2 separate regions of the Homo sapiens genome follow, and region 1 is linked to region 2. Evidence: fine-mapped expression QTL. Tissue or cell type: lymphoblastoid cells. Region 2 holds a variant in brackets; the other region holds the start of a gene. All regions are shown on one strand. Distances are between the middles of the regions.

The links. PIP is the estimated chance that this variant, and not a neighbour inherited with it, causes the effect.
Region 1: it holds the start of SH2B3, and the variant in region 2 is fine-mapped to the expression of SH2B3 in lymphoblastoid cells (GTEx, PIP above 0.99).

The regions. Positions count from the first base shown.
Region 1 is chr12:111,401,538-111,409,639 of GRCh38, reverse strand. SH2B3 (SH2B adaptor protein 3) reads right to left here and starts at 3,717. Exons shown (of 8, transcript NM_005475.3): 1 at 3,363-3,717. LINC02356 (long intergenic non-protein coding RNA 2356) reads right to left here. Exons shown (of 4, transcript NR_187522.1): 4 at 6,330-6,502. RefSeq lists silencers at 3,379-3,958, 4,079-4,238 and an enhancer at 6,261-6,510.
Region 2 is chr12:111,629,659-111,637,760 of GRCh38, reverse strand. No RefSeq gene overlaps it. Among named protein-coding and RNA genes, the nearest start is that of ATXN2-AS, 34 kb to the right of the region's middle. RefSeq lists an enhancer at 1,739-2,342. The variant C/A (reference allele first, on the strand shown) is at 3,322.

The DNA of each region.
Region 1 (8,102 bases), 230 kb after region 2:
AGGCCTGACTCAGCAAGTGACCCCGGCTGAGTCACTTCCCCTGGGCAGCCTGCCCGCCTCAGTTTCCTTGGGAAGGGTGGGTAGTGAGGAATGGGGCCTTGCAGGGAATGAGCAGCTAGCACTGCACCTCTGGACTCGCCGAGGCAGGCGTCTCCGGTCTGCCAGACGGCAGCGGCTTCCTGCCCTGCCTCGTCAAAGATGCTGAACGCCCGCGGGCCCTTGGGGACCGTTTTCCCAGGAAACCTGGCAATTAAGTGCCAGCCCCTATTGGGCATGAACAGCAATGGCTTGCACTTATTGAGTGCCAATTGCATGCCGGGCACTGTGCATGCCTCCTTTTCTCAAAACCACCCTAACAGGGAGTTGGCAACCCCCCTATTTCATAGACAAAAAGACCTGTGGCTCAGAGAGGCTAAGGGACCAGCCCAAGATCACACAGCCAGAGCAAGTACAGCCAACACAGTTCCAGTCCTGACACTGTACTTCACACACCCAACCCTGGGGAGGCTGGAACTCTTGGCTTCCATCGGGCAGGCGAGGTCCAGATCAGAGAAGCCAGGTAACCTGCCTAGGACCTCACACCTGGAAGCTGGCAGAGCCCAGATTTGGCCCCAAAGTCCATACTGCTACCAGGGAGAAGTGGGAATTTAGCAGGAAAAGCCTCTTGTTTTATTAATAGCAATAATATCTACTATTGTTAATTGAGTGCCAGGCTCAGCGCTCAGTGCCTTATGTGCCATGTCACAGCAAGTGCACAGCTGTTAAAGCCTTTCACAGATGTTGTCTCAATTGCCTCAGAGAGCTTAAGTGATCAACCCAAGGATCCCCAGCAATGGGAGACCCTCATGAACACCAGCCCTCAGAAGGGTGTGGGGTCATGTAAACTGGGTCCCAAAGGTGTTTCCAGCAAAAGGAGCTGTATTGGCCCAGACTGTGGGACAGCTCCCTACTATGTCCCTGAGACCCCCTTCACTGACCCTCCCCACCTTGGCTGGGGAGGGCACCCGGTCTCCCCTCACCACAGACAGGTGGCACTGAGACTGGCAGCGAGGAGGTCCCTCCAAGTGCCTCCAGCTCTGCTCCACCTGGGATATGGAGAATGTCTGGGGGTGGCACAGCGGGAGCCAGAAATCCAAGGGCCCAGCAGTCCTGTGGGATCTGATTTGTACTCAAAAGTTCTATTTATCGGAGAAGGAGGATCAGGCCCAGGTTTGAGAGGCATGGGGGTGGGGGTGGGGGGATGAGGAAAGAAAGCCAGCAGAGCTAACACCCACAACAAAAAAGATCATTCCGGCCCCAAGGCTACTTCTTCTCTTCCTCCTGACCAAGCCACTCTGGACACTGTGAATTCACTCATTCATGGTTCCCATGACTCTAGGAAGTAGGTACTATTAGCACACCCATTTCACAGATGAGGAAACTGAGGTGGGGCAGTTAAGCAAGGCCTTATAGCTAAGGAAGTGCCCAGATCTTCAAAATTCTGCTCCCAAAGACCCAGGAAATTCCAGTGCTATGTATGCAAGAGATGCTCAAGGGAGACTACTGAAGGAACACCTCATAGCCAATAACAGTAACACTAATGAAGGCAATGATAAAATCACCACTACCACCACCACCACCTGCAACTGAACCTCTCTTTGCCAGGCAGCAGGTGCTCATTACACACTGGCTCATTAAATCTCCACTGCAAACCTGTTACTCCCCCATTTTACACAGAGGGAAACTGAGGGCAGAGTCACTTGCCCACGCCTTCAGCTGAACGAAGGCAATAGGAGTAGCAAAGCACAGTCTCCAGGACCCTCCTCACTATCCTCCTCCACTTCCTGCTGAGCCCCTGCAGACCCTGAGCCCCCAGCTGCTGATGCTCTGAGCCAGCCCCTTCCCAGCTGGCCGCTCTGTGGCCCACAGGGACTCACAAAAGTTCTAGGAATGCTCACCCTTTGGCTCAGAAGGATTTTCCCTCCCAGAGGGGGTAGTGGGAAAAGGCTCAGGAAAAGTGCACTAAAAACCCTTCCAACTTCCCCCAGTAGGCCCTGGCTCTCATCCTCCGAGCCCAGCCTGCCCAGGTGGCCTCTGACGGCTCTCCCTCCACGAGGGCAGGTCCCGAGGAGCCTCCAGAGCTGTTTCCACTCAGGCAGCCAGGTCAGTGATGGGAAACCCAGACACAACCTGCGCCTGCATCCCTGGAGACCCACAGGCCCACTGCCCTGGCAGGGGCCCTGAGGCCTGGCTGCTAGCCGGTGTTAGGGAACTGTCATCTCCCCGGCGAGGGGCTGCGGGTCAGATCTCGGTCCCTCCTGCCACCAAAGCTGGCCTTGCCGACATTGCCTTGCCGGGGCCTCTGCTCTGAACCCCCCACCAGATTTCACTTCCTCCCACTCAGCCCAGCCTGGCCGTGCCCCTCCCTGGAGGCCCCCAGCTGCAGGCAGTGACCTCCTCACCTACATCATTGTGGCTGGGAATGGGGAAGAGAAACAGGAGAATGAGGAAACTAAAGAAAAAAAGAAGCGGGACAGGCAGGCAGACCCTCCTCTCCAGTTCCTCAAATGCAGTCCCCCTCCCTCAAAACAAAGCTCCCCTGGCCGGAGGGAGGGAAGGGAGGGAAGGGGATTTCTGCACCAGGCATCAGAGACCTCTGAAATACCATCCCTACCGTGCGGATCTAGAAGACCAACACCCACTCCAGACGTTTTTTGGTCGGGGGATTCCCAGGGAACCCCAGGCAAGAGGTGTGAGAGGATCAATACCAGAAACCTGTCTCTGGGACGCCTAGCCCTGGTGAACCGCCCAATTCAGCAGCATGCGGGGGCCTGGCCCGGTCGACCTCGGCAGTGCAGGAACTGGGGAGAGGGGCTTCCTGAATCAGGGCGCTACCCTCTTAGCCACATGGCCCGGAATGGGGAGTGGGGAGGGGCCGGCGCATCCTCCCCCGCTGCCCCCACACCCAAGGGCTCATCTGTGCTCACAGCCTCAGTTTGACTACTTTCACTTTCAGGGTAGCAATGGGTGACCCCTGACCGCTCCTCCCCAGGCACAAGTTGAGGGGAGGGCCGCCCCCAACCGGCGAGGCTACCGTAGGGTGGGCTGGGGGCGTCAGCGATGCCCTCTCCCCCATCCCACGGCCTCAGTTACCCCAACGCTCTCCCTAACACGTGTGTGGGTGGGGGTAGTGGCTGAGTGGGGGGTCGTAGGCGCTGGGAGCCGTCACCCCGGAACGCCTCCATCCGAGTTGGCTGCAGGGCAGTATTTTGGGCTGGGGGTGACGCGCAGAGCCCGGGCAGAACTGGACACGGGGCCTCCTCTTTCCCCACAAAAGCCCTCCCGGCCCCGGAGGAGGGGAGCGCGGGCAAACGCGGGCTCACCTGAGAGACAGGAGCTCTGGGCCCGGCCGGCCCATGGCGTCGCGCGCCCCCGGGCCCTCGAAATCCCGAGGGGGCGGGCGGGCCCCCGCCCTGGGCGCGTCCTCTCCCGCCCGCCGGCTCCTCGCTCGCGGCTCGCTCGAGCGGGGCTCAGGCAGGAAACCCGGGCTCGGAAAATGGCCAGCGCCTCATCATTTCCGCCGCCAGCGCTTGACAGTTGCGGGAGGATGCGCCCCCGGGCCGCCGCCGCCGGGGAAACTTTGCAGCGGCCGCCGTCGCCACCGCGGGCCGCGACAGTCCGGGCGGGCAGCCGGGCGGAGGCGGTGGCCCGGGCCCATGCCGCCCCGCGCCGTTATGTAAAGAGGAACCGGCCGTGCGAGCGGAGCCCGGCGGGGGAGGCCGGCCGCGACAGGGGCGGGGCAGGGGCGGGGCCACCAGGAGCCACGCCTCAGGCCGCGCGCGAGTCGGAGATTCGGCTGGAGGGGCGGGCCATGAGGGCGGAGCCCGGACTGGCCCCGCCTACCAATCCCGCTAGTCCGCGGCTGCCAGGGTCGGAGGGCTCTCCTGGCGCGGGTCCGGAAAAAGGCGAGGCCTTGCGAAGCCACGCCCACCACGTGCCCACCCGATTTCGCGTCCCACAGTCTGAAGATAGAAGTGAGGATCGGAGGGGCGGGGCGACTTTAGCCCCACCCACTCAACGCCGGCAGGTCACCAGGTGCCTCAGCGCCTGGAGGCGGGGCCAGATGAAGGGGCGGGGCCTAGGGCGGGCAGGGTCGAGGGGCCTGGCCTCCAGGGGGCGCGCCCTTGCTGACTCCCTCCTGCAGGGCCTTATCAGTGCCCGCAGGGCTGGGCGGTGCAATAGCGACCACGGCTTTCATCATCGCCCCAGGGAGGGAGCCCAGCCCTGCCCGACCCTGACTATCTGCGATCATGCTGACCCGACCCGCCACGGCCCCAGGCCCCCGATTTGGGTTCTGGCCCCAGCCCTCAGCTTTGCCTTTGCTACAGCCGGTGCCCGTATAGCCCAGCCTCGCTCCGGCCGCCCGTCCTGTCCCCCAATTCTAGGAGGGGTGCATCTTTCTCCAGGAAGCCCTCTCCGACCGCTGGCTTCCGTGGCCTCTGCGCCCACCCCCCTGCCCGCCCCCGGGCTACTTACATTTTCTCCACGGCCTCATGGGGAGCTGAGACGGACAGTGGGGTTCCCCCTAGTCCGGAGTGGGACATGCTCTCAGCCAGCCTCTCCCCCAACATGTGGGAGGGCGGGGAGGGAGGAATGTACTCTTCTCCCCCTCCCCCAACAGGAAACAAGTCGCCCACGCCCCCAGCTTGGAGGGGCCACCTCGAGTCTTCCCAGGCAGCAAGTGTCTCCATTCCACTGCCTCCCCCTCTTCCTACCCGGGCAAATGACTTGACTTCTCCGTACCTCTCCACTTCCTTGCCTATGAAATGGAAATAATGTGTACCCACTCTCCTGGCAGTGAGAATTAAGTGAGTTAATGCATTAAAGCAGTTAGCTCGAGGCTTGGCTCCAGGAAGCTCTCTGTGTTAAACAAATCGGCCCCAGTCCTGACCTTAGAACTACAGGAAGGGGTTCCCCAGAAGGTGGGGATTTCCAGACTCCGAGTAGATGGGGGAAGGGAGCGGTCTGCTACAGGATTCCTGGTGTCCAATGACCTTGAAGAAAAAGGCCACAAAAATCTGCTTTCCGCACATTTCCAGGCACTGTTCTAGGCGCTGGGAACACAGCAGTGAACAACACAGATATCCCTGCCTGCGTGGAGCTGATATTCTAGTGGGGGGACATAAGGCACGAATAAGCAAGTGGGATCAGCTATGACAATGACAAAACAGTTACGGGATGGAGAGCTGGAAGGGGATGTCTTAGATCCAGGGCTCAGGAAGGACACCTCTGCGGAACTAACATGTGAGCTTAGAACCCTCCATGACAAGAAGGATCCAGGTGCTATAACGTCTGAGGGAAGAGCATTCCAGGCCAAAGGAACAGCATGTGCAAAGGTGCTGAGGTGGGAATACATGTGGTGCTTTGGAATAAAGTCATAAAGGCAGTGGTGACACCTATACTGGTAAGAGATGATGTTTCAAAGGTGGGCCCATCACATGGTGTCTTGAAGGTCTTGGTGGGGACTTTGGGAATTATTTTGAAGGCAGTAGGGTGCCATGGAGGGTTGTGAGGAGAAGGACCTGTGGAGTGTGGGATTCAAGCTGTTCACACGGCATCTGAGGATGTGGGAAGAGGGGTGGGGTGGGGGAATGTCAATGAAGTCTAAACGAGGCCGGGTGTAGTGGCTCACACCTGCAATCTCAGCACTTTGGGAGGCTGAGGCCAGCGGATCACCTGAGGTCAGGAGTTTGAGACCAGCCTGGTCAACAGGGTGAAACCCTGTCTCTACTAAAAATACAAAAATTAGCCAGGCATGGTTGCACGCACCTGTAGTCCCAGCTACTGGGGAGGCAGAGGCAGAAGAATCGCTTGAACCTGGGAGGTGGACACTGCAGTGAGCCAAGATTGCATCACTGCACTCGAGCCTGGGAGACAGAGGTAGGCTCTGTCTCTAAAAAAAAAAAAAAAAAAAGTCTGAATGGATCATCCCATATTATTTGATCACTTTCTTATACCTGGGGACACTGCGGCCAAGAGAGAACAGTTACTTGTCTGTAGCCATGCAGCTGCCAGGCAGCACCCACAGAGCAGCCCGGTACCCAGCCAATGCCAAATGGCTGCTGAAATCTGCCAGCCACAAGCACTTTCCCTCTCACTGCCCAGACAGCAGCTCTGCTGACTTAAATTGGGACTTGTGGTTCTTCCCCTTTTTAATCACGGTTCAAACCTTCTCGCCTGCCAGATTTCTCGGAGGCCCAAACTGGTTTCCTTCCTCGCTTAGTCGCTTCTTGCCCACATCCCCGCCAGAGTCCAGTTTTTTGTTTTGGCGCTCGCTGAGACCCCAAGACTTCTCACTTTTTGTGTTTATTTTCCCTTGGAAAGGCAAAGGGATTCCAACAAATAACCTTCCCATCACCGTGCCCAGATTTGAGAGTGCCGCTGCCACGAACACAGCGAGGTCGTCGTCGCCACTGGGAGGCCGGCCAGCCACGGCTCTTCCCACTCGGCAGGTCACTGGGACCTAAGGAGAGAAAGGGTTATTCAAATTCCCATGACTGATCCGTAGCTCCCGGAAACAAGCCAGGCCGTCTTAGGGGAGCAGGTCCAACCGCCCTTCCTTCTTGCTGTGAAAAACACCAACACCTCCTGCTGGCCAAGTTCCAGAAAGCCGGAGACTCACAGGATTAATAACAATTACAGGCCACGCGCGGTGGCTCATGCCTGTAATCCCAGCACTTTGGGAGGCCGAGGCAGGCGGATCACCCAAGGTCGGGAGTTCGAGACCAGCCTGACCAACATGGAGAAACCCCGTCTCTACTAAAAATACAAAATTAGCCAGGTGTGGTGCCGCATGCCTGTAATCCCAGCTACTCAGGAGGCTGAGGCAGGAGAATTGTTTGAACCCGGGAGGTGGAGGTTGCGGTGAGCCGAGATCGTACCATTGCACTCCAGCCTGGGCAACAAGAGTGAAAATCCGTCTCAAAAAAAAAAAAAAAAAATTAAAAAGATAACGATTACAACACGAGTCAACAGCAATAAATTAACAATGATCAATGCTATTAATATTCATATTAGCAATTCGTATTAATAATAATTTAAATAACAACAAAAGTTAACTAGTACAAACACAAATACATGATAAGTGCTTGAGGTGATGGATACCTCATTTACCCTGATGTGATAATTACACATTGCATGCCTGTATCAAAATACCTCACATACTCCATAAATATATACACCTACTATATACTCATAAAAATTCAAAAAGTGGGCCAGGCGCGGTGGCTTAGGCCTGTAATCCCAGCACTTTGGGAGACTGAGGCGGTGGATCACAAAGTCAGGAGTTCAAGACCAGCCAGGCCAATATGGTGAAACCCCATCTCTACTAAAAATACAAAAATTAGCCGGGTGTGGTGGCGGGTGCCAGTAGTCCCAGCTACTCGGGAGGCTGAGGCAGGAGAATCGCTTAAACCCAGGAAGGGGAGGTTGCAGTGAGCTGAGATCACGCGACTGTGCTCCAGCCTGGCAACAACAGAGCGAGACTCCGTCTCCAAAAAAAAAAAAAAGAGTTCTCTGTTCTGTATCTCCTAGCTGTGCAGTCACATAGATTCTCTGGGCCTCAGTTTCCTCATCTGGAAAATGGGGACAGTGACAGGACTGACCCCATTGGGTTGAGGGGGAATTTGATGAGAAAACTCACATTGAGGGCTTAGGAGTGGGGGAGGTACCTCCACATAGCAACGACTGATAAAGAATGTTGAATATAGTGCAGGCTCGGTGGCTCATGCCGGTAATCCCAGCACTTTGGGAGGCTGCAGCAGATGGATCACCTGAGGTCGGGAGTTTGAGACCAGCCTTGTCAACATGGTGAAACCCTGTCTCTACTAAAAATACAAAAATTAACTGGGCGTGCTGGTGGGTGCCTGTAATCCCAGCTACTTGGGAGGCTGACGCAGGGATAATTGCTTGAACCTGGGAGGCGGAGGTTGCAGTGAGCCGAGATTGCACCATTGCACTCCAGCCTGGTGACAAGAGTGAGACTTCGTCTCAAAAAAAAAAAGAATGTGATTATAATCTATGATTGGGTGTGAGAGTCCCGTGTCCCTCGAGGGTTGTGAAGA
Region 2 (8,102 bases):
GGTACATGTGTTTCCTAATTTAAAAAGGAAGAGCCCAGGCTAGGTGCTGTGGCTCACACCTGTCATCCCAACACTCTGGGAGGCCGAGATAAGAGGATCGCTTGAGGCTGGGAGTTCAAGACCAGCCTGGGCAACATAGACCTTGTCTCTACTAAAAATTAAAAACAATTAGCCAGGGGTGGCGCATGCCTGTAGTCCCAGCTACTCAGGAGGCTAAGGCAGGAGGATCTCTGGAGCCCAGGAGTTCGAGCTTGCAGTGAGCTATGATCGCACCACTGCTCTCCCAGCTATATCAACTCCTGGTTCTAATTCTCAATCCCTTGATTATGGCCCAATAGGCAAAAGTTCAGGTTTTCCCTAGAGAACTGGGAGAACTCAAGTCCCCTGTAAAAGAATGAGATGTTTCCGGCCGGGTGCGGTGGCTCATGCCTGTAATCCCAGCACTTTGTGAGGCTGAGGCGGGCGGATCACCTGAGGTCAGGAGTTTGAGACCAGCCTGGCCAACATGGCAAAACCCTGTCTCTACTAAAATACAAAAAATTAGCCGGGCATGATGTCAGGTGCCTGTAATCCCAGCTACTCAGGAGGCTGAGACGGGAAAATCACTTGAACCAGAGAGACGGTGGTTGCAGTGAGCCGAGATCACGCCACTGCACTCCAGCCTGGGCGGCTGAGCGAGACTCTGTCTAAAAAAAATAAATAAATAAAGATGTTTCCACAACTTAAGAAACTCGCCTGTATCAGTTTACATCATTAGCATAATGCTTAGCACTAAAAGGCTTCAGTGCTAACTAAAAAGAAGGGACAGGAATTAATTTTACAGGCACAACAGATTACAGAGAAAGACCTAGAAGTTAAGACATGTAAGCAGAAAATTTTAGGAGGAAAAAGGAGAGTTGCTATCTTGGAAACACTCCAACAGAGAGCAACCAAATTGTGACTTATCACACGCAGCCAGAGGGTCTTCCGGCAGCATTTTTTAGGAATTATCTTTTGTGATAGAAGCAACCTTAGCTGTAGCTGTATTCACTCATATTCTAACTGATCAGTTTCTGCTCATGCAGACACTATGAGCCCAACTGTTTGCAAAAGGGACAGCAAGAGAGGAGCCACGTGGCACTCCCCCACCTCCCCACCCCACCTGTCCTTGGGGAAAAAAATTAAGATCCTCTTTTCAAAATGCCTGCCTCAGGAAAACAGCTTCGTCGCATTTGTTTCCATGCTGCGGAAAATCAACACGAACTGGCTTTGATCCCAAACAGGGCCAACTGCAGGGCACTGAGGATTCCACAGCCAGGAGGAATGCGGAGGCCTCTCCCCCAGCACATTCGACTTCAATTATGTGGGAACACGCCTGGGCCGGGGGCTGATGCCAGAATTATCCTGGCTGAGACGGAGGAGGCCCCGTGCTGTGGCCTAGAATCTTTCCTAAAAGTCCATGCGGGATCTCTCGGTTGCTGCCAATCCTGCACTTTCTCGTTGGCGAGATTCCTGGCTCTGTTTGGCTAGAGTAATGCTACGGCTCACTCCTGTCCTTTTCTTCTCACTGCGGCCCCTCTGCCCCTCACCATTGTCAATCAGAATGCTCCACCGCTTTCAAAAACAGAACAGTCCCCCCAAGAAATCATCCACACCATCCCTTCCTCCTTCTCGGTTAGCTCCGTTATGGCCCACAGGAGAGGGCTGCCTTTTTGGTTAACTCTTTAAAAAGTTTCCTTTTCACCTTCTGACATAACATTCTCGTGGGAAGGGAGGTAAGGGATGCTAATGAGCCTCACTGGATTACCGTTAGCGTGTGTGAACCCAAGTGGACTAGGAAAATCCCAGCAGGACATCCCTATGAGGGGCCTCTTTTCCAGCACTGGTTGTCCTAATCAGGCAAGCCAGAGCGGTAATCTAGAGACCCCAAACCTGTGTTGGATTTTAGTAGGACGTAGAGCCGAGATAGCCCCTTTGCACTTGCTGAGAATGAAAAATGGAAGTAAGCCCTGTCCTGCGGTTTTGATGTGTTTGATTACACTGCTAGCTCACACAACCTACCGCCCAGTCATTGTGCTGAGCACTTGCCTTGTATGTTTCATCCAGTCCTCACAACAATCCTGTCAGGTCCTACGGTGAACCCATTTTACACAGCAAGAAACTAGGGCGCAGTGGAAACAGGATGGGACTCGACCAGCACTGACTGAGGTCACATAGCTGGTAAGTGATAAAGGCCATTCTCTCTCTCTTTTTCTTTTTTTGCAACAGAGTTTTGCTCTTGTCACTCAGGCTGGAGTGCTATGGCGGGATCTCAGCTCACTGCAACCTCTGCCTCCTGGGTTCACGCAGTTCTCCTGCCTCAGCCTCCTGAGTAGCTGGAATTACAGGCACCTGCCACCAGGCCCAGCTAATTATTTTATTTTATTTTTCATAGAGGCAGGGTTTCTCCATCCATGTTGGTCAGGCTGGTCTCAAACTCCTGACCTCAGGTGATCCACCTGTCTTTGCCTCCCAAAGTGCTGGGATTACAGGCGTGAGCCACTGTGCCCAGCCCTCTCACTCTCTTCTTTTTTTTTTTTTTTTTAGAGACAGGGTCTCACTCTTGCCCAGGCTAGAGTGCAGTGGTGTGATCATGGCTCATGGCAGCCTCAACCTCCCTGGACTTAAACGATCCTCCCACCTCAGCCTCCTGAGTAGCTGGGACCACAGGAGCGTGCCACTATGCCCAGCTAACTTTTTCTTATTTTGGGGGTCTCCTATGTTGCCCAGGCTGATCTGGAACTCCTGGGCTCAAGTGGTCCTCCCACCTCAGCCTCCCAAAATGCTGAGATTATACACATAAGCCACTGTGCCCGGCCCTTTTTCTTTTCTTTTCTTTTTTTTTTTTTTAATAAACAAGGTCTCTGTCGCCCAGGCTGGAGTGCAGTGACGCGATCATAGCTCACTGCAGTCTCAAACTCCTGGGCTCAAGTGATCCTCCTGCCTCAGCCTCCTGAGTAGCTGGGACTACAGGTACACCACCATGCCCAGCTAATTTGTTTGTTCTTGTAGACATGGGATCTTGCTATGTTGCCCAGGCTGACCTTGAATTCCAAGTGATCCTCCCACCTCCGCCTCCCAAAGCACTGGGATGACAGTTGCAGTCCACCACACTCAGTCAATTCTCAATCTTGACATCATCTAACCCCAAAACCTGGGCTTATCACCACTCTGCTCTACTATCTCCCCTAACTTTGGGACTTGGGAATGTAAAAGACACAGCTCCTAGTTCGATTTTGTTGTTTTGGGAAAGGAGAGTACTGAGTTGAGGCCACTTTTGTGTGAGTCCAGGGTCCTGAACAT[C/A]CACCCTCTGCCAGCCTTCCCTTTTTTTTTTTTTTTTTTTTGAGAAGGGGTCTCTAGCTCTATTGTCCAGACTGGAGCACAGTGGCACGATCTTGGCTAACTGCAACCTCCACCTCCAGGGTTCAAGCAATTCTCATGCCTCAGTCTCCTGAGAAGCTGGGATTAACAGGCACCCGCCACCACGCCCAGCTAGTTTTTGTATTTTTAGTAGAGATGGGGTTTCACTATCTTGGCCAGGCTGGTCTGGACCTCCTGACCTCAGGTGATCTGCCCACCTCGGCCTCCCAAAGTGCTGGGATTACAGGCGTGAGCCACCAACCCTAGCCTCTTCTCATGGAGTTTTCTAACTTCTCCCTCTCTCCTTTCCCACTTCAATGGGGCGCCTGAGCTGATAAAGAGAAAGGAAGAGGAAAGCCACAGGGTTTCCCCCCACTATACCCAAGGGCTGGCCTTGGGAATTCATTTCAATGGACTGTGCTGGCCCCTTCACCCTGGGGAGCTTGGGGCCCAGCCCACAGCAGCCATTTACACTGACATCTCAGTTCCTTTATCCAGAGCCTCATGGACATTTGCTCCATTGGAAAAGTCGCTTCTGGAACAAGGCTATCCAGGCTCTAAGGTGTTCTCTCTGTAAGAGTGCAGACTCTGCTAGTGCCCCCAGAGGCACAGTCAAAAGGGCATAAACAGGCTAACTGGAAACTGGATATTCTGGAGGGATCGGCTTAATTTGCAGCTTCAATTTATTATAGAACACATGGGGAGAGAGAAAGCCTAGAACAAAAATCTTACAAACTACTAGAGGATATTATAAAGCAGTATTAATTTGGCAGATGTAAATTGGTGCTGTGTGTATGTCTATGTGCAAATGTGTCCAAGAGCTTTTTCTTTGTTTTTTTTTTGAGACGGAGTCTCCTAGGCTAGAGTGCAGTGGTGCAATCTTGGCTCACTGCACGTCTGCCTCCCAGGTTCAAGCAATTCTCCTGCCTCAGCCTCCCAAGTAGCTGCGATTACAGGCTTGCGGCACCACACCGGCTAATTTTTTGTATTTTTAGTAGAGACGGAGTTTCACCATGTTGGCCAGGCTGGTCTCAAACTCTTGGCCTCAAGTGATCTGCCTGCCTCGGCCTCCCAAAGTGCTGCAATTACAGGCATGAGCCACTGTACCCGGCCTTTTAAAAAAATATTATGTAATAACAAGTTTAAGCCAGGCACAGTGGCTCACACCTGTAATTCCAGCACTTTGGGAGGCCAAGGCGGGCAGATCACAAGGTCAGGAGATTGAGACCATCCTGGCCAACATGGTGAAAACCCATCTCTACTAAAAATACAAAAATTATCTGGGCGTGGTGGCGTGCACAAGTAATCCCAGCTACTTGGGAGGCTGAGGCAGGAGAATCACTTGAACCCGGGAGTCGGAGCTTGCGCCACTGCACTCCAGCCTGGCGACAGAGCGAGACTCCGTCTAAAAAAAAGCAAAAAAATTATAAGTTCAATTTATGATCTGATGTTTTGTTTTTTCCTTTTTTGAGACAGTCTTGCTCTGTTGTCCAGGCTGGAGTGCAGTGGCGTGATCTTGGCTCACTGCAACCTCCACCTCCTGGGTTTAAGCGATTCTCCTGTCTCAGCCTCCCAAGTAGCTGGGACTACAGGTGCCTGCCACCACGCCTGGATAATTTTTTTTTTTTTTTTTAGATGGAATCTCGCTCTGTTGCCAGGCTAGAGTGCAGTAGCGCAATCTCAGCTCACTGCAACCTCTGCCTCCCGGGTTCAAGTGATTCTCCTGCCTCAGCCTCCCAAGTAGCTGGGATTACAGGCATGCGCCACCATGCCCAGCTAATTTTTGCATTTTTAGTAGAGATGGGGCTTCACCATGTTGGCCAGGCTGGTCTTGATCTCCTGACCTGGTGATCCACCCACCTTGGCCTCCCAAAGTGCTGGGATTACAGGCATGAGCCACCGTGCCCGGCCTAATTTTTGTATTTTTAGCAGAGGTGGGTTTCATCATGTTGGCCAGGCTGGTCTCGAACTCCTGACCTCAAAGGATCCACCCACCTCATTCTCCCAAAAATCTGGGATTACAGGCGTGAGCCACCACACCCGGCCTATGATCTGATTTAATAGCTATATTTGTGCTACTGAGCTTAGATTTTCACCTACTTCCACTTATCCTACATATATATATATATACATTTTTTTTTTTTTTTTGAGATGGAGTCTCACTCTGTCACCCAGGCTGGAGTGCAGTGGTGTGATCTCGGCTAACTGCAAGCTCTGCCTCCCAGGTTCACACCATTCTCCTGCCTCAGCCTCCCAAGAGGCTGGGACTACAGGCGCCCGCCACCACACCCGGCTAATTTTTTGTATTTTTAGTAGACATGGGGTTTCACTGTGTTAGCCAGGATGGTCTCGATCTCCTGACCTCGTGATCCACCCACCTCGGCCTCCCAAAGTGCTGGGATTACAGGCACAAGCCACCGCACCCAGCCCCTACTTATATATTCTAAATGCTATTAGACAATAGGAAGTACAAAAGTATATTGCTTGTGTGTTTATTTTTTATTGAGATATAATTAACATACAATAGGCCCCACGCAGTGGCCCACACCTGTAATCCCAGCAGTTTGGGATGCCAAGGCAGGCGTATCACCTGAGGTCAACAGTTCAAGACCAGCCTGGCCAAAATGGCAAAATCCCATCTCTACTAAAAATACAAAAAAATTAGGCGTGGTGGTGTGCACCTGTAATCCCAGCTACTTGGGAGGCTGAGGCAGGAGAATTGCTTGAACCTGGGAGGTGGAGGTTGCAGTGAGCAGAGATGGTGCCATTTCACTCCAGCCTGGGCAACAAGAGCAAAACTCTGTCTCAAATAATAATAATAATAATAATAATAATAATAAAAAACATACAATAGAATGCAGATCTTAAGTGCTCAGTTCAAAGAGTTTTGAGAATTGTATATACCCATGTAATCACTACCCAAATCAAGATGTGTAGAATATTTCTATCTCCCCTGTTAAAAAATACAATGTTATATTTTTTAAACAGAAAAACATAAAGAAAATTAAATGGTTATCTCAACAGAGGAAGTTATTAACACTTTAGAGTATGTTTCTTCTGGTATTTTTGTTTGTTTGTTTTGAGACAGGGTCTTGCTCTGTCACTCAGGCTGGAGTGCAGTGGCATGATCACAGCTTACTGCAGCCTCAACCTTCCAAGATCAAGCAATTATTTCACCTTAGCCTCCCAAGTAGCTGGGACTACAGGCACACACCACCACACCCAGCTAATCATCTGGTATTTTCTATGCATATTCTTTTTTTTTTTTTTGAGATAGAGTCTCGCTCTGTCACCCAGGTTGGAGTGCAGTGGCACAATCTCAGCTCATTGCAACCTCTGTCTCCCAGGTTCAAGTGATTCTCCTGCCTCAGCCTCCTGAGTAGCTGGGATTACAGGCACATGCCACCACACACAGCTAACTTTTGTATTTTTAGTAGAGACCGGGTTTCACTATGTTGGGCATGTTGGTCTCCAACTCCTGACCTCAAATGATCTGCCCTCATTGGCCTCCCAAAGTGCTGGGATTACAGGTGTGAGCCACTGTGCCCAGCATGCATATTCTTTTTACATGATTTCTTTATTCTTTCAAAAATTCCTTCAGGGCCTAATAAGTGCTAGACACTGCCTAGGTTCTGGGGATATGGCAATGAAGGCCAAGAGTCCAGGCACTGCCATCCTGAAAAGAAACAAAATTATTAATATATAAAATTTCAGATAATGGTAAATGCCAGGAAAAAAGGTAAAACAGTGTAATTGGGATGGAGGGGAGGGCTGTGTTAGGTAGGATAGTCAGGGAAGGCCACGATGGTAGACTGTGTGCAAAAAATGGCTCACTATTCCCCCCACAATGTGACTCTGCAGCATCTCCACCCCACTGAATCTGGGCTAGTATTGTGACTTGCTTTAGACCACAACTTTTGCTTCAGCAAAAGTGACACTGTGACAGTTTTTTGTTTTCGGTTTTTTTTTGTTTTGTTTTTTTTTTTGAGATGGAGTCCTGCTCTGTCGCCCAGGCTGGAGTGCAGTGGCACAATCTCAGTTTACTGCAGCCTCTGCCTCCCAGGTTCAAACGATTCTCCTGCCTCAGCCTCATGGGAATACAGGCATGTGCTACCATACCCAGCTAATTTTTGTATTTTTAGTAGAGACAGGGTTTCACCATGTTGCCCAGGCTGGTCTCGAACCCCTGGCCTCAAGTGATCTGCCTGCCTCGGCCTCCCAATGTGCTGGGATTACAGGCGTGAGCCACTGCACCCGGCAATACTGTGATAGTTCTGAGCCTCAAGAGGCCTTTTAAAATTCTATTCTGTCTCAAAACCCTGCCCAACCTCTAGGAAAACAAGCCCAGGTTAGTCTGCTGGTGGATGAGAGACCACATGGATGCGAGCCAAGCAAGCCCAGTTATCCCAGCCAAATTCATGAAAAGTACCCAGCAAAGATCTCTGCCTTGATGTTCACATGGCGTTCCCCTGTGTGCATGTGTCTATTCCTTCTTTTAAGACACCAGTCATATTGGGTCAGGATACATCCTAATGACCTTATTTTAACTTGGTTACTTCTGTTAAAAACCCTATCTCCAGCCGGGCACAGTGGCTCACGCCTGTAATCCCAGCACTTTGGGAGGCCAAGGTGGGCATATCACCTGAGGTCGGGAGTTTGAGACCAGCCTGGCCAACATGGAGAAAACCCATCCCTACTAAAAATACAAAATTAGCTGGGGGTGG